Homo sapiens: one gene and its partners. The protein of the gene in region 1 purifies or fractionates together with the protein of each later gene. This does not show direct contact. Each region holds a gene or a part of one and is shown on either strand. Other genes may lie near its edges. The genes, in order: DUSP19, TCEA1 and ACAD11.

Region 1 (7,791 bases):
CCAGGCTCCAGCGATCGTCCCACCTCAGCCTCTGAATAGCTGGGAATACAGGTGCACACCACCATGCCTGGCTAATTTTTTTGTACTTTTTGTAGAGATGCGGTTTTACCATGTTGCCCAAGCTGGTCTTGAACTCCTGGGCTTGAGCAGTCTGCCCGCCTTGGCCTCCCAAATTTCTGGGATTACAGGCATGAGCCACCACGCCTGACTAAACCACCAAATTTCAATTATTTGAACCTATTTTTTCCTCTGGAGTTGGTTAGGGCTTTCTACATTAGAAAACAGAATTTTAAAAAAAATTATGAAGTATTTCAAATTTATAGAAAATTACAGAAACTAATAGACAATTATGTATATACCATTCAGCTTTAACAAATGTTAATATTTTGATAGGCTAACTTTTAAGTATAATAAAGCTGAATGTGAGCTCAGTAGCGAACCTGTAAGCTTGGTATTATCAAGAGGATATTGGCCAAACAGCATACTTGCTGGCCTTTCAGCCACCTAAAATCACATAATAAAAGTTGGCTGAATTCCCAGATGGGTAACTTAAAAAAAAAAAAAGTTTATGAAATAGAACCTAATTCAGGAAAGTAAAATACTTGAAATCTTTAAACTGTGAAACTCACTTTATTTTGACTAGTTATTCTCCATATGAACTTGCTTATTAACTAGAGCCAGTTTCCAAGTGTGGGAGATCTGGGAAGCCGGCTGTGACAGAAAGAGATTGTAGAAGGGCACAGCCCTAGTGATACATGGAGTGTGGGTGGGATCCTGCAGACCAACAGCATTTGCTCTAAGCTACTGGGTGTTCCCAAACCAGCTGGCACAAAGTCATCTTGTGGGTGTGTGGTTTTTGTAATATCCTTTTTTAAGTTACAAAATAAAGAGATGTTTATTGTAAAAAGTCAGAATGAGCATAAAGAAGAAAAAAAAATCACCTGCAACCCCATTGTTAACATTTTGTTCTATGTATACCTCCTTTCCATTTTTTAAGCATATACATATTTTTTGTTGTTATAAAAATGGATGATGGTATTTTGTAACCTGCTTTTATAACCAGATACATTGAGAACATTTTTCTTTTTTTTTTTTTTTTTTTTTTGAGACGGAGTCTCACTCTGTCACCTAGGCTGGAGTGCAGTGGCACGATCTTGGCTCACTGCAACCTCTGCCTCCCAGGTTTAAGCAAGTCTCGTGCCTCAGCCTCCTGAGTAGCTGGGATTACAGGCATGCACCACCATGCCCAGCTAATTTTTGTATTTTTAGTAGAGATGGGGTTGTGCCATGTTGGCCAGGCTTGTCTCAAACTCCTGACCTCAAGTGATCCACCCACCTCAGCCTCCCAAAGTGCTGGGATTACAGACAGGAGCCACCACTCCTGGCCAAGAACATGTTTCCATGCTATACATATTTTACCACATTTCTTCTTTCTCTCTTTCTCTCTCTCTCCCTCTCTTTCCCTTCCCTTTTGTTCGTTCGTTCGTTCGTTCCTTCCTTCCTCCCTCCCTCCCTCCCTCCCTCCCTCTCTCTTCTCTTGTCTTGTCTTGTCTTTTCTTTTCTTATCTTTTCTTTTCTTTTGTTTTCTTTCTTCTGGCTGTGTCACCGAGGCTGGAGTGCAGTGGCATAACCATAGCTTACTGTAACCCCGAATTCCTAGGTTCAAGGGATCCTCCTGCCTTAGCCTTCTGAATACCTGGGAATACAAGCATGCACTACCATGCCTGGCTAATTAAAAAAAATTTTTTTTCTATAGACAGGGTCTCACAATGTTGTTCAGGCTTACATTTCTTATTTCTAATGGTGGTAATGGCTGTATGTATTTCACTACACAATTATACCATTTTTTATTTAATGCAACAGCTATTATTGGGCTTTTAGTGTTCTTTTGTTTTTGTTTTGTTTATATTACAAACAATACTATGGTGAACATCCTTACAGCTAATCTTTGCAACATCTATAACTTTTAGGACAAATTTTTAGAAGTAGGATTTCAGAGTCCAGGAGTTTATGTAGGATGACTGTTATCAAATTGCCCTTCAGAAAGTTGGACTAAGGTCCTTCCAAGTTGTTGGTCTTTTTTTTTTAATAACAGAATTGCTGTAGAAATTTATATAAAAGTTCAAGATGATTATATTTGTGTTCAAGGTGGTATCATTTATTTCTTCTAGGGTCACAAGATGCTGCTCATGATTTGGATACACTGAAAAAGAATAAGGTAAAAAAATGCTTTAAGTCTGGCACCATATACACAGAATATTTTAATTGTTTTATTTAGGAAAAACTGTATTGGTCCATCTTTGGTATATTATGGAGTTTATTTGGTAACATTTTGGCTATCATTTCAATAGAGTTGAAAAATAATTGGCACATAATTCAAATATGTGGATCTGTAATCTGTCTTTCCAGTTTTACATTCTTCTTGATCTCCTTCATGTACCCTCATGAACCTGACCTTGGAGGCATGTCTTTCTTGCCTGTGTTTATGTAGTTCCTCTGTGTGGGATAGACTTTCCCTCATCTCTGCTTGTCCAAGACCTGTCCATACCTTAAGTCCCAACTCACATACCACGTCTTCTGTAATGCCATTTCCAGCCACTCTACTCCATACAACTGATGTGATTTATTACATATTTACTCAAAAGGATTTTTAGCCCTCTACCATTTTTTTGAGTACTGTTTCAGGTCATGGAATTGCTGTAGGTGAAGGAGTGCAAGAGATTCTTGTTCACTTGAAGCGTATGACCTAAGGGGCAGACAGAGAAGAGAGACAAGCAGCTACCGAACAGCGTTTGTGTGCTTTGATGGGGAAGTGCAGGGTGCTGTAGAAGTGCATAGGAGATGATGCTCTTAACCCATGTTTGGTTTGGTTTGTTTTTGGGGGGATAAGTGAGTCAGGGGAGACTTCCTGGAGGAAGTGATATTGAAGTATTTCTCTGAAGAGGCTAGGAAAGGAGTAGACAGCCTGTAATCCCAAGGCTTTGGGAGGCCAAGGCAGGAGGATTGGTTGACCCCAGGAGTTCGAGGTTACAGTGTGCTATGATTTTGCTACTGTACTCCAGACTGGGCGACAAAGCAAGACTCTATCTCAAAAAAAAAAAAGAAAGTAAAGTGTTCATACAGAATAAATGATATGTGTGAAGGCCCAGAAGCAAGAGAAAGGTGGATGCTTTCAGGGACAGAAAAGTTCAGTGACCCTGGAATAGAGAGTGTGAGAAAGAAGGGCACCAAGAGACAAGGCCAGAGAGAGAGGTAAGCATGAGCCAGATCACAAAAGGCCATGTAAGCCAAAGTTAGTTGTGTGGACTTGATCCAAAAGACTATGGAAAGCCACTGAGAAGTTACCCAGAGATGTAACAAGGTCAAATTTGCAGTTCAGAAAGATTTCTCATTAGAAGCAGTGTGGAAAATCGATTGGAGGGTTGCTCAAGTTAGAGATGGGGGAAACTGGTTATAAAGCTATTGCAGTAATCTAAGGAAAAGATGATAATGGCTGAGATTAAGATTTAGTGGAGATAGAATTAGATAGATGTGAGGGGTTTTTTAGAGGGTAGAATTCTTAAAATTTGATTACTTATGAGGCAGGATAGGGAGTGGGGCTAAGGGAGAAGGAGGAGTCAAGGCTGATGTCTAGCTTTCTTTGGTAACTAAGTAAAGTTATCGTTCCATGAGATTGAAAGCAACGTAGAAGGAACAGGCTTTGAAGGAGAAACAGTGTGCTCAGTTCTGAACATGTTAGGTTTTGGGTGATGTGGATCATCTAGGTGGGTGGATATGTAGGGTCTGAAGTTCAGAATAGAGGTGAATATATAGATTTAGGAATCTTCAGCTTTTAAGTAGTTACTGAAACCATTAGAATAGATGAAGCTGCCTGGGGAAAAGTGTAAAGTAAGAGAGAAGAGGGCCTATGACAGAATCTTATCACAGAACTGATAAATTGAGGAATATCACCCTATATGGAATGATCAAACAAAGAAGAGTCCGCAGTGGGAAAGGAGGATCTAAAAGAGGCCCAAAGAAGGTAAAACAAAAAGATGGTGTCATGGAAACTAAAGAGAATAGTGTTTTAAGGAGGAGAGAGTCAGCAATGTCAGATGCTGTAAAAGTTTAAGTACGATTAGGACTAAATTATATCCATGGGACTTGGTGACAGAGAGGTTGTTAGTGCGTTTGGTGGAAACAGTTTCATTTGAATTGGAGGCCAAAGCCATATTGCAAAAGATTGAGAAGTGAGGAAGTGATGGCAAAGGGAAAAAAAAAAAGAGAGAGAGGAGCCATAGGTGAGGAGGGGGAGGGGAGAGCTTTGAGCATGTTTTAAGGCTGATGGTAGAAGAAGGAATTGAAGATACAGAAAAGCAAGAATTATGACTATAGGGAGATGCCAAGAAAGTAGGAAGCACTGTGACTCCAAGCACAGGTTCTGGAATGAGCCTTATCGAAGATGCACGAGCACATCCTTCATTGTAATCAGAAGGCAGAGGGGAAGTACAGATGTGGACAAGGTTGTTAGGTTTTTTTTTTTTTTTTTTTTTTTTTTTTTTTTTTTTGAGGCAGAGTCTCGCTCATTTGCTCAGGCTGGAGTGCAGTGGCATGATCGTGGCTCACTGCAACCTTTACCTCCTGGGTTCAAGTGATTCTCAGCCTTTGGATTATCTTAATGGACTGTCTGCCTGGCTTTCTTCCACATGGTTGGTGGACTCTAGGAAAAGGGGCTCAAATACATAGATGCAAGAGGAGGAGGTTGCTCAAGTGTACCATCTGAAAGAAAATATTTTACAACCACACCTCCCCTTACTTTTCAGCCAGATTGGTTCATCAGAATCTCTGGGTATGAGACCCTGTGTTATTGATAGTTTTTAAGAGTTCATCAGGTGACTCTAATGTGCAGTCATCCTGGAGAACCATTTTATAAAGTAAAGAATATGAAGGAAAATAGGGAAATAATTCTTGAAAGGGAAGTTGTATACCACTGATACACTTCTCCTATTTAAGTTTTTATATGGATATTCACAGATTAATTCAACAAAGATTTTAAGCATTTTCTGCTAAACTCACTGCTCATTCGCTTATAACACTAAGTTAAACATGGTCCCTACCCTCATGGAGTTTCTAGTGCAGTGAAAGAGAAAAACAATCTCTAAATGGCATGAGCTATAATAGGGCAAGTCCAGGGCTATGAAAATATATAGGCCAGGTGTGGTGGCTTATACCTGTAATGCCAGCACTGTGGGAGGCGGAAGTGGGAGCATCACTTGAGGCCAGGAGTTCGAGACCAGCCTGGGCAAAAAAAGTGAGACCCGCCCCCCTCTTCTCTGAAAAAAAAAAAAAAAAAAAAAATTAGCTGGGTGTGGTGGTACACGCCTGTAGTCCCAGCTACTTGGGAGGCTGAGGCAGGAGGATCACCTGAGCCTAGGAGTTCAAGATTGCAGTGGCCTATGATTGCATCATTGCACTCCAGCCTGGGTGACAGAAAGAGACCCTGTCTCTGCATGATGATAATAATAAGTTAAAAGAGAGAGAGAGAGAGAGAAAACATATAGTAGAAGGAGCACTTCTGGTGTGGGATTGAAGCAGTATTATCATTCAAGTGAGTCGCATTTAAATTTTTTACCTTTCTTGTTATAGATATCAACACCCCAGTCTCTTTTTAGGTAACCTAATTCATGGGATTTAAAACAATCATCTTTTTTCTTTCTCTTTAAGGTGACTCATATTCTTAATGTTGCATATGGAGTTGAAAATGCTTTCCTCAGTGACTTTACATATAAGAGCATTTCTATATTGGATCTGCCTGAAACCAACATCCTGTCTTATTTTCCAGAATGTTTTGAATTTATTGAAGAAGCAAAAAGAAAAGTGAGTTTTGTTTTGATCCATAGTTCTGCAGAAGCAGAAATTTGAAAGTGTGGATCCATTACCCAATCTTTATTATTTTTATAATGAATCTCTAAAAAACAATTATGAAATTTCCCTTCTAACAATATTTCATTATTTCCTACAATTATTTGGTTAATTGCTCTTTTTTCAATGAGATGTTTAGTTTCAACATTAATTCAGACTATAAAACAGAGACTGCTCTAGACTTGTTAGTGTATTTATGATGATTAATATGCATTTGATTTTAATGAATGAGATAGTTATTGTGAAACTATGCATTTTTAGCAGTAAAATTTTAAGGCACTCTAAGGACTAAATGTGTATTGCTTTACTTAGATTGTATGAAAATGCTGATCAGAAACTGTCTGTTGGTTTTCTGAAGTTAGAAGACCAATAGCCAATGTCATATAGTACTTCAGGCTTGTTATTGAAGTCAACATTCTGACAGGCAAAGTTTCTAGGTTGGCTGTTATCAACAATTATTCCTTGAAATGTCATCATTTTTAGTCAGCAAATAATTCTTACAGACTTTATGTAAGATACGTAGATGGGAAAGTAGAAGCATTTACAGAGAGAAATAACTCTTCTGGAACACCTAACAATGACAGGATTACAATCAGGTTTAATTGAACTCTGGCCTACCTTCTCTCCCTTTATCTTTTCTCCTTCCCATTTTCTCTTCCTCTCTCCCTTCTTTCCTTTCATTTAGTAATATTTATTGAATGCCTTAGGTGCCCAGCACTGTTCTACGTGCCTTCCTACTAGACTACCCAGAAAATATAAAACTATTCAATTCTACTGTTCATCAACTTTACTTAATAGCAGATACAGTCATGCACTGCATAATGATGTTTGGACTGCATATATGATGGTGGTTCCATAAGATTATAATAATGTATTTTTACCATACCTTTTCTATGTTTATGTATGTTTAGATACACAAATACATACCATTGTGTTACTGTTGCCTACAAGTCAGTACAGTAACATCTGAACAGGTTTGTAGTCTTGGAGCAATAGGCCATACCATTCTAGGTTTGTGTGAGTGCACTCTGTGATGTTTACACCACGAAGAAACTGCCTAACAACACATTTCTCAGAATGCATCACCATTGTTAAATGATGCACGACTGTATTTGGATGGAAGCAAAGGAAGAGGTTTTTTTTGTTTTTTGTTTTTTGTGTTTTTTTTTTTTGTTTTTTTTTTTTTTGAGATGCAGTCTCACTCTGTCGCCAGGCTGGAGTGCAGTAGTGTGATCTCGGTGCACTGTAACCTCCGGCTCACTGCAACCTCCGCCTCTCGGGTTCAAGTGATTCTCCTGCCTCAGCCTCCCAGGTAGTTGGGACTATAGGAGCACACTGCCACACCCGGGTAATTTTTTGTATTTTAGTAGAGACAGGGTTTCACCGTGTTGCCCAGGCTGGTCTTGAACTCCTGAGCTCAGGCAGACCACCTGCCTCAGCCTCCCAAAGTGCTAGGATTACAGGCATGAGCCACTGCACCTGGCCAAGGGAGAGGTTTTTTAATTCAAAGCCTAATATTGGCCATTCTGTTTTCTTGTTAAAAAATTTACAGGCTCTGGATTGTAACATTCCAGTGTGTGAGTTAATAGTTTTAAAAATAAAAAGGATGTTTCTGTATTGGCTCCTTCTCTAAGGAGATGTAGAATATGCCAGAGATGGCAAAGTATAGATATCATCCATATTCATATTAACATTAGAAGAGATGTAAATGTTGCAAGTAAAAATTAGAGAGGTTAATCATATCTAGAAAGAAAAGCAAGAGATTGAATATTCTAATAAGCTTGGAATTTTAAATAAATTTAAAAAATAAAGTTTGCCTTAATTTGGGCCAGTAAATTAGAGTGGATTTTAGCTTGGGTTTCCTAAAAATAAAGCCTGAGATGAGGATTT
Region 2 (7,791 bases), on another chromosome or scaffold:
GACTGGCTCTTGTACTTTTGTTTTCCCCAGCATTTTCCCTGCCTGTCCTCTGGAAATTCAAACAGGCTGATGAAATACAGAGAAAGAGAAATGGTCAGAATGACACTCCTCTTTTCCCCAACTGCATCATCAGCCTACAGATGGCTTTTTAAGTGTTCAGTAATTCAACAAAATGTGTTTTAGGGGTTGTAGAATTATGGTATATGTGTTTCTCTTTTTTTCGGTAGTTTTCAGATTTTTCTCTCAGCTTTTTTAATGTTTTATATTATGAAAAAGTTAACTTTTTTTTTTTTTTTTTGAGACAGTGTCACTCTGTTACCCAGGCTAGAGTGCAGTGGTGCAATCTCGGCTCACTGCAACCTCCGCCTCCCCAGTTCAAGCGATTCTCTTGCCTCAGCCTCCCTAGAAGCTGGGACTACAGGTGTGCACCACCATGCCTGGCTAATTTTCGTATTTTTAGTAGAGATGGGATTTCAACGTATTGGCCAGGCTGGTCTTGAACTCCTGATCTCAGGTGATCTGCCCGTCCTGGCCTCCCAGAGTGCTGGGATTACAGATGTGAGCCACTGCGCCCAGCCTGAAAAAGTTAACTTTGAAGAGTAATAGTTGTCATCAGAATTGACAAATTTAAGTGCAAATTTAGATATCATTTAAAAAAATATTTTAACATGCTGCTGCTTTACCTGAATAATTTTGTTTTACTAAAACCATAGGTGTCACACTTAACTAAAAACAGCTTACCATTTATTGAGCTATTACTCTGAGCCAGGTATTCTGCTAAATACTTACCCACCTTATCCCATTTATTCCTCAGGCAACTTTGCAAGATGAGTATTATCCTCATTCTGAAAATGAGGATGCTAAGTATTTAGAATAGTCTTAAGCCAAATAGCTAGTGAATGGCCAAGTGAAGATGTGAATCTAAATCTGTTTTGCTCCAAAGCTAGTACTCCTCTCTTAAGCTACAGTGTCTCTCTAGAAGACCCTTGCATCTGCTCTTGAACCATGCATGGATACAATTAAGTGAATACAAAATCAGGAAGTAAGAGTATGAACTTGCTGTTTTGGGGCAGGTGTGTTTCCCTAGTTACCTAGATCAATATCCTGACCCTAGTTCTACCCAAGATGTTGTCCCACATGTGTACTTGATCTCAAGTGCACATGACCAAGCCACAGTGAACCACAGAAAGTAGTTCGAAATTTTTAGGTATTAGCTGTTTTCTGCTTAAGCTGTTTTCTTGTCACTTTGATTCGGTGTCAGTAACCAAGTCTGACTGCTAATGTGGGTTCAAATCCTGGCTTTTCTGAACTTTTCTGAACTTTAGCTGTGTGATTTTAGGCAAGTTCTTTGTCATCACTAAAATGTTTCTCGTCATGGTAAACTGGAGATAATTTAGTAAGGATTAAGTGAATATAAAATGCTTCTAGTGTAGGATTGTGGGCCTAAAGGATGTAATAAGGCCTAAAAAACAATCTGAGGTTGCCTTTCTTTGTAAAGGATTCATTTAGATTATAGAAGGAGGAGTGAGGCAAGGACATAAAGTTTTGAAGTTCATGGAGAGATTTTGTGGGTAGTGCTGAGGTTTATTTATTTATTTCATTGAAGGCTCAAGGTTGAGTGGAATTAAATTGCAGGGAGAGAAATTGAAATTAGATGTTAGAATTTCGTAGGAGCTGGGATACCTGAAATATTGATTTACATTTCCAAGTACCTCAGTTAAAATAACAACTGCAACAAAACTTTGATATCTATATCAGAGTTAGATTAATTAGCATAATTCAAAATTTAGAATGACTATACAATTTTTAATAACAGCTTTATCGAGAAATAGAATTAAATTCATTCTTAAAGTGTAGTTGACTCTTGAACAATGCAAGGGTTGTGGTGCTCACACTATCCCCCCTCCCTACCCGCATGCAGTCAAGTAGTATAACTTTTGTAGTAGTATAACTCATGCAGTCATGTCACTCAGGCTGGAGTGTGGTGGCATGATCTTGGCTCACTGCAACCTCCGCCTCCTGGGTTTAAGCAGCTCTCCCACCTCAGCTTCCCGAGTAGCTGGGACTACAAGTGCGTGCCACCACACCCAACTAATTTTGTATTTTTAGTAGAGATGGGATTTTACCATTTTTCTCAGGCTGGTCTCCACATCCTGACCTCAAGTGATTCACCTGCCTCGGCCTCCCAAATTGCTGGGATTACAGGCGTGAGCCACTGAGCCCAGCCTTTTTTGGGTATTTTTTATAGAGATGGGGTTTCACCATATTGCCCAGGCTGATCTAGAACTCCTGAACTCAAGTGATCTGCCTGCCTTGGCCTCCCAAAATGTTGGGATTATAGGCACTTAGCCTGGGTGACAGAGCGAGACAATGTCTCAAAAAAGAAAAGAAAAGAAATAAAGGAGAGAAAATATGTTTACTGTTCATGAAGTGGAAATGTGTCGTCGTAAAGGTCTTCATCCTCTTTGTCTTCACATTGAATAAGCTGAGGAGAAAGGAAGAGTTGGTTTTGTCATCTAGGGTTGCAGAGGTGAAAGAAAATTCTCAGGTGAATCTGTGCAGTTTAAACCCATGTTATTTGAGGGTCAACTGTTAATTCAGTGGCTTTTAGTGTATTTACGGGTTTGTGCAACTATTACTACTGTATAATTTTAGAACATTTTCATCACTCCAAAAAGAAACCCTGTACCTATTAAGCAGTCACTCCTCATTCAGCCCTCATTTGCCCCCACCAATTTCTCACACGCCTCTGACAGCCACTAATATACTTTCTGTCTGTGTGTTTGCCAAATCTGGAAATTTTCTGTCAGTGAAATTATACAGTATGTGGTCTTTTGTAACTGGCCTCTTTTGCTTAGTATAGTCTTTTTTTTTTTTTTTTTTTTTTGAGACGGAGTCTCATCTTGCTCTGTCGCTCAGGCTGGAGTGCAGTGGCGCGATCTCGGCTCACTGCAACCTCCGCCTCCCAGGTTCAAGCAGTTCTCCTGTCTCAGCCTCCCGAGTAGCTGGGACTATAGGCGCGCACCACCACACCCGGCTAATTTTTGTATTTTTAGTAGAGATGGGGTTTCACCATATTGGCCAGGCCGGTCTCAAACTCCTGACCTCATAATCCGCCTGTCTTGGCCTCCCAAAGTGCTGGGATTTCCACGCGTGAGCCACACCGCCTGGCCTGATTTTTGTATTTTTAGTAGAGACAGGGTTTCACCATGTCGGCCAAGCTGGTCTAGAACTCCTGATCTCAGGTGATCTACCCGCTTCAGCCTCCCAAAGTGCTGGGATTACAGATGTGAGCCACTGCACCCAACCACGATTTGCTTATTCATTCATCATTTGGTGGACATTTGGGCTGTTTCAGCTTTTTGGCTGTTGTGAATAATACTGTTAAAAACATTGCTGTACAAGTGTCTCGCTCTGTCACCCCGGCTGGAGTGCAGTGGTGTGATGGCTCACTGTAAGCTCCGCCTCCCGGGTTCCCACCATTCTCCTGCCTCAGCCTCCCGAGTAGCTGGGGCTACAGGCACCCAGCACCATGCCCGGCTATTGTATTTTTAGTAGAGACTGGGTTTCACTGTATTAGCCAGGATGGTCTCGATCTCCTGACTTCATGATCTGCCCGCCTCGGCCTCCTAAAGTGCCGGGATTACAGGCGTGAGCCACCGCGCCTGGCGACATATGTTTTCATTTCTGTTGGGTGTATACCTCGGAGAATAATTACTGGGTCATATAGTAACTATGTTTAACCTTTTGAGGAACTGCCAGACCTTTCCAGTGTGGCTGCACCATTTTACATTCCAACTAGCAGTGTGTGAGGATTCCAGTTTCACCTCATTTTCACCAATATCATTTGTCTTGATTATAGCCTTCCTAGTGGGTGTAAAGTGGTATTTCATTGTGGGTTTGATTTGCATGTCCCTTGTGATTAACAATGTTGAGCATCTTTTCATTGCTTTGTGGCCATTTGCATATCTTCTATGGAGAAATAAATGTCTATTCAGATCCTTTGCCCATTTTTTAGAAAAGAGTCAGGGTCTGGCTATGTTGCCCAGGCTGGAGTACAAATTGGATTAGTCCATTTTTAAATTGGGTTGTCTTTTTATTATTGAGTTGTAAGAGTTCTTTATATTCTGAATACTAGAACCTTGTTAGATATGCTGATACTGTCTCCCATTCTGTGGGTTGTCTGTCTGCTCTTGGTTGTGGCCTTTGAAGTATAAAATATTCTAATTTTGATGAAGATGAATTTATATATATTTTTCTTTTGTTGCTTGTGCTTTTGGTGTAGTTTAACTGCAAATTTGAGATGACATAGTAATATCATAAGTCCTAGCTTTATAGTGATGTTATTGAGCTACAACTCAAATATCTATAATTCATTGTTTAAGAAAATAGATAATGGGCCAGGCATGGTGGGTCACACCTGTAATCCCAGCACTTTGGGAGGCTGAGGTGGGCAGATCACGAGGTCAGGAGTTCAAGACCAGCCTGGCTAACATAGTGAAACCCCATCTCTACTGAAAATACAAAAATTAGTTGGGCGTGGTGGTGGGCGCCTGTAGTCCCAGCTGCTTGGGAGGCTGAGGCAGGATAATCGCTTGAACCCAGGAGGTAGAGGTTGCAGCGAACTGAGATCACGCCACTGCACTCCAGCCTGGGCGACACAGTGAGACTGTCTCAAAAAAAAAAAAATGGATAATATCTTAATTCTTTAACCTTGAAATCTTATAATAATGCCTATGAAGAAGACATTATTATAGAAGAAGTAACTGTTTTACTTGATTGAGCTTAAATATGATCACTGAAAATGCTGGCTTATGGCCCCTGGAGATTATTGTTATGGTAGAAATAAGTAATTATTTGTATATTTTTGTACTCCTCATCAACCATGCTATGTGTCAGACCCTCTATTTTGATACTTTATCTGTGTAATGTTGCCTCATTTGGCTGTTTTAACTACTCAAGGTTGGTGTGTTATGCTCACCTACGTATAAAGAAGCTGAAGCTTGAAAAGGACAAATAACATTACCCAGATCTTGTAGTTAGCAAATGTCAGAGCATGGATTTGAATCTAAATCTGTCATATATGTACACCATATTCTTAACTATAAATCCCTATTACTCCCTCCTTTTTACATCTCCTTGAGGAGAGGGATGTTCGTATCCTACATGGTCTTGAGTATACTGAGCACATAGTACAAGTATCATGGTTTATAAAATCACTTGTTTTCTATTACCAGATAGGAGCACCAACAATGTAATAAAATAGTGTGATAGCTGTAGTTTATCTTTCAGCCAGTAGTGTGAACTAAATTTGGCTCTGGAAATTAAAGAAGAGTCTTTCTTTCTCTTGCATCATCTGTAGGAGATGCTACAATCTCATAGACTTGGACATGTATTCTTTTCTTTTCTTTTTTTTTAAATAGAGGTGGGATCTCATTCTGTTATCCAGGCTGGTCTCGAACCCCTGGGCTCAAGTGATCCTCCTGCCTTAGGCCTCCCAGAGTGCTGGGATTACAGGCTGAGCCATTGTGCCTGGCCTAGGCTTGACATTTAGAGCTAGGTGATGCTTGGGGAAGGCTAAAATACAGCTTCTTGTTTGGTGATACTAGTCATCTGAATTCACAAAGGAGTGCTGCCACTGGCGCACTGCTGGGGAAAGGGCAGCAGTATAAGGGTCAGGCGACTAGTTCATGACCTTACTACCCGTCAGTATGACCTTGGGCAAGTCACTTTTCTTTTCTGGGTTTAAGTTTCTTTTTTTTGTGTGTAGTTAAGGGTTTGAAATAGATGATTAAAGATTTCTGTTTGTTTTAAAATTCCCTGATGTCAGAAAGGGTTTCAGTCTTGCTCACTGCTGTATCCCCAGTACAGTAGAGCTTGGTACATTTGACATTACTGGAGTAGATCTTACCTTTTCTAGTTAGTAATCATAGAACCTTGTGCAAGTTTCTTGACATATTTCCTCATCTGTAAAATGGAGATAATACCTGCTTCTATAGGGTTTATGGTGAAGGTGGAATTAAATCTATGTGAAGTATTTAACAATGCCAAGCACATAGCAGCACTCAAAGTTTGTTGTCACCGAATTAATGTATGATTATCTGTTTTGCATTTCACTCATTCAGATCATCATAGTTATTTCTTTTTGTTTGTCTGTTTTTTGTTTTTTTTTTTTTTTTTTTTTTGAGATGGAGTTTTGCTCTATCGTCCAGGTTGGAGTGCAGTGGCACGATCTCGGCTCACTGCAACCTCCGCCTCCTGGGTTCAAGTGATTCTCCTGCCTCAGCCTCCTGAGTAGCTGTGGGATTACAGGTGCCCGCCACCACGCCCCGCTAATTTTTGTATTTTTAGTAGAGATGGAGTTTCACCATGTTGGCCAGGCTGGTCTCGAACTCCTGAGCTCAGGTTGATCCTCCCACCTCGGTCTCCCAAAGTGCTAGGATTACAGGTGTGAGCCACATGCATAAGCCACCGTGCCCAGCCCATAGTTATTTCTTAAAGACCCTTCAGTGAAATATTTATTTGAATTAGTTGGAACACAGTGCAGTTTTCAGAAAGGTCATAGTTTTATTCCGTGAGTGTTACTTTTAGCTTTTTATTCCAACCATGGCCTCACCAGAGAGCTGAGTAGAAAAGGAAAGTAACAAAATTAATGCAAATATATTGCCTCTACTTGGAAAACAATTTAAACTGTATGTCTCATTGCTGATATGTTGGAAGAATCAACTTAATACTTAGGAAACCCTGCTTTTTAAGGAACTTCTAGAAGTGTGATTCTTTACCCTTATTAAGAGATTCTTGGTCAGAAGTGGATCAGAAATCCTGGAAATGTGGATAGAAGAAAAATGTCAATGGTAAATGGAGAATACAGGCCCACAATCTTTTTTTTTTTTTTTTTTTTTTGTCGTCGTCGTTTTTTAATTTTTATTTTAGAAATGGAGTCTCACTCTGTCCACACAGGCTAGACTGCCGTGGCACGATCATGGTTCATGTAATCTCAAGCTTCTGGGCTCGAGCAGTCCTCCCGCCTCAGCTTCTGGAGTAGCTAGGACTACAGGCACTATGGCCAGCTAATTTTTTATCTTTATTTTTTGTAGAGAGGGGGTCATGCTGTGTTGTCCAGACTTCTAGAGTTTGTTAATCAAAACCCTTAGGGTCTGATATATTTGGTAATTCCAGATTTTTCAGATTTGATAAAGATAATTTGGTATATACATCATATATTACATAATACCCCCAGCAGGATTTGGGCACTTCAGCAACCAGACATTAACATTTCTTTTTTTTGTTTTGTTTTTTGTTTTTTTGAGACGGAGTCTCGCTCTGTCGCCCAGGCTGGAGTGCAGTGGCGCGATCTCGGCTCACTGCAACCTCCACTTCCTGGGTTCAAGCAGCTCTCTGCCTCAGTCTCCTGAGTAGCTGGGATTACAGGCACCCGCCACCACGCCCAGCTAATTTTTGTATTTTTAGTAGAGACAGGGTTTCACTATCTTGGTTAGGGTGGTCTTGAACTCCTGACCTCGTGATCCATCCACCTCGGCCTCCCAAAGTGTTGGGATTACAGGTGTGAGCCACTGCGCCCGGCCTTAACATTTCTGTAGTCAGTTGTAATAGTCACATTACGTGGCATAGAGCACAAATAGCTTTACATGTGTTGTGGTTAGGTTTAGCTGCCAAATGAGTTTACCTATGAGAAATCTAGAAATCTTTTGCTTTTCAAAGGTTTTTGGTCTGGAAATTTGCAGATAAGGGATCGAAGACTTCATTTACTCACAACAATGTCATACCTGT
Region 3 (7,791 bases), on another chromosome or scaffold:
TATATGGAACCAAGAAAGAGCCCAAATAGCCAAGGCACTCCTAAACAAAAAGAACAAAGCTGGAGGCATAATGTTACTTGACTTCAAACTATACTACAAGGCTACAGTAACCAAAACAGCATGGTACTGTTACAAAAACAGGTACATAGACCAATGTAACAGAGAGCCCAGAAATGGGGCCACATACCTACAACCATCTGATCATTGACAAAGGTGACAAAAACAAGCAATGGAGAAAGGACTCCCTTATTCAATAAATGGTGCTGGGATAACTTGCTAGCCATCTGCAGGGGATTGAAACTGCGCACCTTCCTTACATCTTAGCCATTTTTTTGACGTTTAATTGTCCTTTTATTTTCCTTTCTTTTCTTCTTTATTATTTTAAGTTCCGGGATACAAGTGCAAAATGTGTAGGTTTGTTACATAGGTATACAGGTGCCATGGTGGTTTGCTACACTTATCTACACGTCATCTAGGTTGTAAGCCCTGCATGCATTAGCTATTTGTCCTAATGCTCTCCCTCTCCTTGCCCCCACCCTCCAACTGGCCCCGGTGTGTGTTGTTCCCCTCCCCATGTCCATGTGTTCTTATTGTTCATCTCCCCACTTATGAGTGAGAACATGCACACCTTGGCCATTTTTATGCTTGGTCATGTTTGCCCTTCAACAGGGGATATTTGATTAGAGTTTCCCTAAAGCGGTGATGTTCAACATGATAGCTACTAACCATATGTGGCTAATGAGCATTTGAAACATACCTAGTCTGAACTGAGATGTACTATAAGTATAAAATATGCACCCCATATTGAAGAATAAATATTAAAATATAAAGTATCTCATTAATAATTTTTATATTGATTTCATGTTGAAATAGTATTTTTGATATATTGGGTTAAATAAAATATATTATTAAAATTAATTCCATCTTTTTCTTTTCACTTTTTAAAAATGTTGCTATTAGAACATTTAAAATAACATTTAAGGTTCATAGTATATTTCTTTTGGATGGCACTGCCCTAGAGGTTGAAACATGGCTCTGAATTAATTTCAAACAAGTTGCTGGTGGTGAATAAATATTTTTTGATGGCTGTAAAACAGGATAATTACAACTTTATAACTTCATGAACAGACTTAGAAGACATTTACTTCTCAGCTTTAGAATAAAGGAGGTATTCTCAGTTGGGTCTCTATAGACCCTAGATTTGCTGAAAAGCATTAAATGGGTAGAAACTAGGTGCTCTAGGGAACTGCCAAATATATTTCCTAAGACAGAACTGGGATGGAGAATTTTTTGCGTTACAGCCTGGAGTAAATTAGAAGGCAGCTGGAAGGAGCCTCCAAATTCAAAGAAATGAAATGTTCCTTTCACAAATTAAAATAAAAAAGCTGGCCCAGATTTTTGCTTATGACATGCTCACACATCTTTTTGTTTCTGCCAGATCACGTTATTTGTGCCAGATGTGAAAAGTTTCCAGTGAAAACAGGCATATTTGTTAAAAAGCCAGGCTTGCTCTGCATGACACATTAACTTTAAAAGGTGGAAGGGAAATTTTTTACTAATGCAGTATTAAAACACCACTCAGGAAAGCAGCACTTGCACAGAGGGCTTTTGTGCATTCGCGATGCTTGTTTGTCGACTTTACTGTGTCCTCCCTTCACCCTGCTCCAGAGTTTGCATGCAAGCTTGACAAAAGGGTAAGAAGTAATGGTTGGTGCCCTGAGCACCTCTTCATCCTTCTTCAACAGCATCAGAGGCTGTATCCAGGGCCCCAGAGGGTCACACTTTCTCACCTCCTCCCACAGTGCCCAGCCAACAGCTGAACTTTGCTGTATACTAAAAACTTGCCTTCGCTGTATACTAAAAGGGCTCCTGACAAATTATTCCCAGGTGTAGTGTCATAAAGCGGGCTGTAGCTTTTCAGTTAAAAAACTATACAAATAAATCATATAATGCTGAATAATACTTTACAAAAAGCAAACATAGATTATAATAATTTAAGGTAAAAAATACATACTGCAAATTTCATAAGATGGTCAAAAATGTATAAGGAGACCGACATACTAAAATATACATGTGCAGCAAACACAAATACAATTCCATCACCACAGATTTGACCTAACACTAACATGTTAGCAATAATAAAGAGTGAACATTTAATAATAGTTTTTCTTGCCTTCTTAAAACTTAGAAGGGAGATGATGTGGATATCCTACTTCTCTGTAGAAGACTTTTTAAGGAAGTCTGAAATAATACCTTCTATTTCATCTCAATACATATTTCCTAATTTTTTTTCTTTTTCTGGAGACAGAGTCTCGCTCTGTCGCCAGGCTGGAGTGCAGTGGCACGATCTTGGCTGAACGCAACCTCTGTCTCCCGGGTTCAAGCAATACTCCTGCCTCAGCCTCCCCAGTAGCTGGGACTACAGGTGCACATCGCCATGCCTGGTTAATTTTTTTTGTTTTTTTTTGTATTTTAGTAGAGACGGGGTTTCACCATGTTGCCCAGGCTGGTCTTGAACTCCTGAGCTCAGGCAACCCACCCGCCTCGGTCTCCCAAAGTGCTGGGATTACAGGTGTGAGCCACTGCGCCTGGCCATATTTCCTAATTTTTATTATATGGGCCACATGTAACTATGTTTACAGTGATTTGTAACAACAGACTCAGTAGTATATAATTTACAGATGATAATTCAAAAAGTCATGAATATCTCACAAAATGTTGGTCCCATTTCTACTTGTGTTTCTCCAGTGACAGAATTCAAGTCCTCCTGAAGAAGCTGATTCCACTTTTAGGTTTATTAGCATGTTTCTCCTTTCCCTGAGTTTTGGGCTGTTTTCCTGTAACTTTACACTTATGTGTCCTAATTCCTTCTAGGAAACCAATGGACAAGGCAAATCCTTCTTCCTTATGACAGCTCCTTCATGTCCACAGGGAGCTCTAATGTTCCAGGTTCTCTAAAGAACAAGAATCTGAGAAAGTTGAAGGAACTGTCTACACTCTTGTGTGCAGAGGTGTTGAAGCATTTTAGGAACTATTTAATTTTTCATAAAGATAAATACCTCTCATTAGACTATATTTAAATACAGACATAAATATGCCTTATTGAAAAGAATCACCCGGTTCATGTAGAGAAAGTCTGTCTCTCACAAGTAATGTTTTTGTTCAATGTTAGTGTAGTGCACCGGGCTACAATAAATTCAAATAAGTAATCGTCCTCACATGTGCATACAACTTCTTCTTGAAAGCTATCCTTTGTGTTGCCCGCTCACACATGATCTGCAAAGCGCGTTCCGCCAAACCTACTGTTCTCATACAGTGGTGGATTCTGCCAGGTCCAAGGCGGCCTTGGGAAATTTCAAATCCCCTACCTTCACCTGGGAAGAAAGGGGAAAAAAAGGGGGAATGTGAAAATGGCCTAGCCCATTCCTTTTGTTATTTATACAAATCCTGGGAAAGAGATGAGCTGCCCTTAATAAAAATGGCTTTCTAGTGAAAAAAAGTCAGTTCTATAATAAGGTTCACTATGAATTCATGGGAATTTTGATTTCTATGTTTTTAAAACCACCACCATTAAACATTTCAAATTTCAGAACTGTCTCTTAAGTATGTACTATGCATAAGCTATTTTATTAATGCTGCAATAGATACAAAGTTGGAATAACACATAGTCCCTGTACTAGGAGTTTAGAATCCAGAAGAGTGGGTAAGGGTAAGAGATACAGAGAGAAACAAAGGCAAAGGAAGAAGAGATTTTCTGTTCATCATTATAACCTCAGGGCCTGGCAGGTATCAGGGGCCTGGTGAATGGATGGGATGAACACAAAAACATTCCTGGAAGAGGTGGTATTCTAGATGTTCTTTGAAAGGGATATAGTATTCTAATAAGCAAGAGGATGGCATACAGTGTTCAAAGTTATTTATGCTTCTAACTTATATCTAATACTTGAATTCATAAAGTACTGAGGTTTTCTTAAAACAAATAGAGGCCTACAGATCATGTTCTAGGAGAAAGTGTATTGCTCTGAATTATATAATTTTCATATTATCTTTTCAATTGATGTGATATAGAAAACCACATCCAACACTTAAATAAAACCTCACCATTCCATGTAAGAAAATCCGCCAAACAGAAAACTTTCCCTTGACAAATGGAGTAAACAAGAAGGGAAAGTATTAGGTTGGTGCAAAAGTAATTGCGGCTTTTGCCAAAAACTGCAATTACCTTGGTGCAAAAGTAATTGCAGTTCAAAAACCGCAATAACTTTTGCACGAACCTAATATCTAAATCAAGGTAGACTTCAGGTCTAAATCTGGAAAGACTTATCTTTTCCAGATTTAGAGCTGAAATATTAATGTACAATACTGAAGAATCATTTCCAAATTCAACTCACCTAGTATTAGATTTGTGGCAGGAACTCGCACTTGATTAAAATGGATCTCAAAATGTCCTCCATGAAAATTATCTATAAAATAGAAAATAAAATTTAGAGCAAAAGGAGTTGACTAAAAAAGAGTCACATATTCTTAATCTGCTGAAATATAATTACTTGAAGAAAATAGGATTTCAAAGATCCATATGGCATGAACATTCTGAGGTAAGCCTCAGCCCTGAACCCCAGGACCCAGCAGCCCAGAAAACTCATCAACTGTTCAAGAAGAGAAACCCTTTGATCCAGATGTTTTCTAATTCATTCTCTGAAGTACAATTTCAGAGAGCTAGGAAAAAGGAAGACCAGGCTCCATAGATCCAGCCAGAGTATTTTATTTGTTTTATTATTGCTGCTTCTTTGAAATATTTTACATATGGGGTTCCAAACAATTTGCATGGAAAAAAGTTTCAATGTTTCAAAAATTAAAAATGAGTAATGTAATCCATGTTTCTTATTTTATCATTGTGGAAACCAACGCCTAAAGATGACAGGGGCCTGCTTGAGGGGAAAGAGCAGGCTTGGCATTAGTGATGATACAGAAACTAGACCTTCAGGTAGGTTTACTCCCAGTCTAGACTTGTTCCACTGTGTGTTCGTCTCTTGAAAATACTGGCATTTGAAACACTGAGGCCAGGAACACGTTCACATTTTATCTTTGCATCACCCCTTCTCCCTGCCAAGTTTTAGAGATAATCTCATGCTAACTCTACACCCTTTTCCTGTCAGAGGAGACAATAATCAGCCTTCTCCACACTGTTTCTTTTGGCCCTGGACACAGGGAGTTGGAGAGGTGCTAGTAAAGTTTTCATACTGAATAATCAAATGTAGCCTCTGCAATGGAAATTATTTGCAGCTCAACTATATTATAAACGCATTTTTGGTATCTTTGCGGCCGTTTCGCTGCAACCCAACAATTTCCTACATGCAATTTTCTCCAGCAAGCTTGCTCATCCCATCTTGCCACCTATGCTTACCCTGTGGGTATACTCTACAGCTGCATCTTAACTGATAAGTGATTCTATAAAACTGCAAGTCTTATATCTGCCACTTGAACATATTCATTAGTCATATTCAATGATAAAAAGAAAGCCAGGGGCTGGGCCCGGTGGCTCATACCTATAATCCCAGCACTTTGGGAGGCCGAGGAGGGTGGATTACCTGAGGTCAGGAGTTCGAGACCAGCCTGGCCAACATGGTGAAAGCCCGTCTCTACTAAAAATACAAAAATTAGCTGGGCATGGTGGCTAAGCAAATACTTGCTGAGAGGGTGATCTTAGCAAATATTTATTGTACACAATGAACACGTGCCACAGTAGGTGGCAGGAAACAAATGGATCTTTGCTTCTTAGAAGTCCCACCCAAGGGCAGAGGAAGGAAAATTTTGCACTCAAATAAGTCAAAAACTCATTGCTTTTTAACAGTTCTTGTAAGTTGATTGATTAAGAGGGCTAAAATTGGAGATAAAAATAATTTTATTGTGGATTATCTGTGCATTAATCCATTTTTATGAATGACAGAGAAAAGACTGGTAGTGTTGCTCTTCCTTAAATACAATCTGCCCTTTCCCAAAAAGGCAGAATTTATATTCTATAAATTCTATAATTTATATAATTATAAATTACATAAATGCTATACTATTTCTTTTTATTGGCTCTACTCTGAACTCCACCAGCATTTATATTAAGACAGTTGTCACAGACAAAGGAATATCTAAGAATCTATCTTATGCATTAAAATGCTATTGCCTTCAATGTTACTGCATATTCTAGCCTTCCTGCTTGCTAATGCATGGTCATATTTATTGGATACCTACCTGTGTAGCCAAAAACTGACAAAGGCCTTATTATTTTTACTCCAGGTGTGTTCATGGGAACAAGAATCATGCTGTGCTGTTTGTGTCTAGTCAAAAGAAAAATTGTATTAGAAAAAGTTTGCTAAGAAGAAAAATAAAACAGATAATAAGCAGAATCACAATTGTCTTTTTGATGTTTTCATGTAGTCATGTAAGCAGTGATGACTGGAATGGGAACTGTGTAAAAGACGTACACCAACATAGTCTGATGCAGGCTGTGATCTGGAACAGAAACAATGATTTGAAAATAAATGAGTTGTTTGATTGAAGCTTCTCACTGCTCAACAATGGTAACTGGGAACTTATATATATAATTAAACATTTCAAGATTATTGCCTTTGATCTAAACATCTAATCACTTCATTACACAGGTCTGAAAAAATTTGTCTGATAATTTAATCCAAACAGCTTTGATAATTTAGCAACACTTTCTAATACTGAAAATTCCACAGCGAAGAATGTTCAGCAATACTCCCTATAATGTTTTCCAAAAACACCTGTTAGAAAATACTTGTGAAATACAAATATATGACATTTACTCTCATATCTTACATTATGATTTGTGAGTCCAAACAGTGAATTTTAAGTAAATTACCTAGATAGGAGGAAGACTGGCTCATTCCTACACAGGTTTCTCAATCAGAATTGTTTAATTACCTGGAGAGAGAAGTATTTTGAGTTCTTCCCAAAACAATTGCAATTTTGCACTTGGGATTCCCAGCTCCTAAAACCAAGGGGAACACAAGCAGATTATAAAAGGAAATTTCTAGTTTGACATTTCACCTTGAAGGTTCTAATCCTTCCCACTTTACCTATGTCAGAAAACAAATAGAGAGAACATTCCTGATTCATTAAGATAATAATTCTTTTGTAACACTCTATATCATCCAAGAAAAATGATTAGGCAAGGCCAAGAATGGACCCCATCAATGAAAGCTGCTACACAAAAATAACCAGAAGTCAAAGCAGCATGAAAGAACTGCCACCTCTCCCATTTACACCATTTCAGACATCAGCATGCTAGAAAAGCTGAGAAATTTTATATGTCTAATATAATATTTTATATGTCAACGTATATGAGGCTGTGATCCCACTTTCAATAAGCCTGGTTCTTTTATTAATTTCTTAAGGGTCAAATTTTAAAAATATTTTTTCATTTTAATGCAAAATTTTATTTTATCACAGTTCAGGGGTCTGTGGCAATTGCCTACAAGGGTCTTTTTGCAAAAATTACTTTTAATGTTTACTAGTAAGTCTAGTCCCTTGGGAAAACTACCATTTGACTAGATTTTCAATTACAAGGCTGCACACAACTGGATCAGATTAAGTTAAACACATCTGTACAAAGTCTCAAACAAATGATCGGATTCTTTTTTCTGATTTATTATAAAAAGAGGTTTGAGGAGATTTGAAATCATATAAAGATTTAATGAGAAATGTTAGGAATGATGTCAAATAGTTGAATAATATTATAAAATTCCAGGAGTTAAAAGGATAAACTCCATGGAA

The links.
Region 2: the proteins of DUSP19 (region 1) and TCEA1 purify together in Homo sapiens (affinity purification with mass spectrometry; 2 studies listed by BioGRID and IntAct, with this or other methods). This does not show direct contact.
Region 3: the proteins of DUSP19 (region 1) and ACAD11 purify together in Homo sapiens (affinity purification with mass spectrometry; 3 studies listed by BioGRID and IntAct, with this or other methods). This does not show direct contact.

What each region holds. Positions count from the first base shown.
Region 1 is NC_000002.12:183,081,337-183,089,127, forward strand, and holds part of DUSP19 (dual specificity protein phosphatase 19), read left to right. Parts: intron 1-2,171; coding exon 2,172-2,218; intron 2,219-5,703; coding exon 5,704-5,856; intron 5,857-7,791.
Region 2 is NC_000008.11:54,012,075-54,019,865, reverse strand, and holds part of TCEA1 (transcription elongation factor A protein 1), read left to right. Parts: intron 1-7,791.
Region 3 is NC_000003.12:132,572,553-132,580,343, forward strand, and holds part of ACAD11 (acyl-CoA dehydrogenase family member 11), read right to left. Parts: intron 7,007-7,791; coding exon 6,940-7,006; exon of another isoform or gene 6,330-6,939; coding exon 6,244-6,329; intron 4,464-6,243; coding exon 4,392-4,463; intron 3,375-4,391; coding exon 3,220-3,374; intron 1-3,219. UniProt on the Homo sapiens protein: Acyl-CoA dehydrogenase, that exhibits maximal activity towards saturated C22-CoA.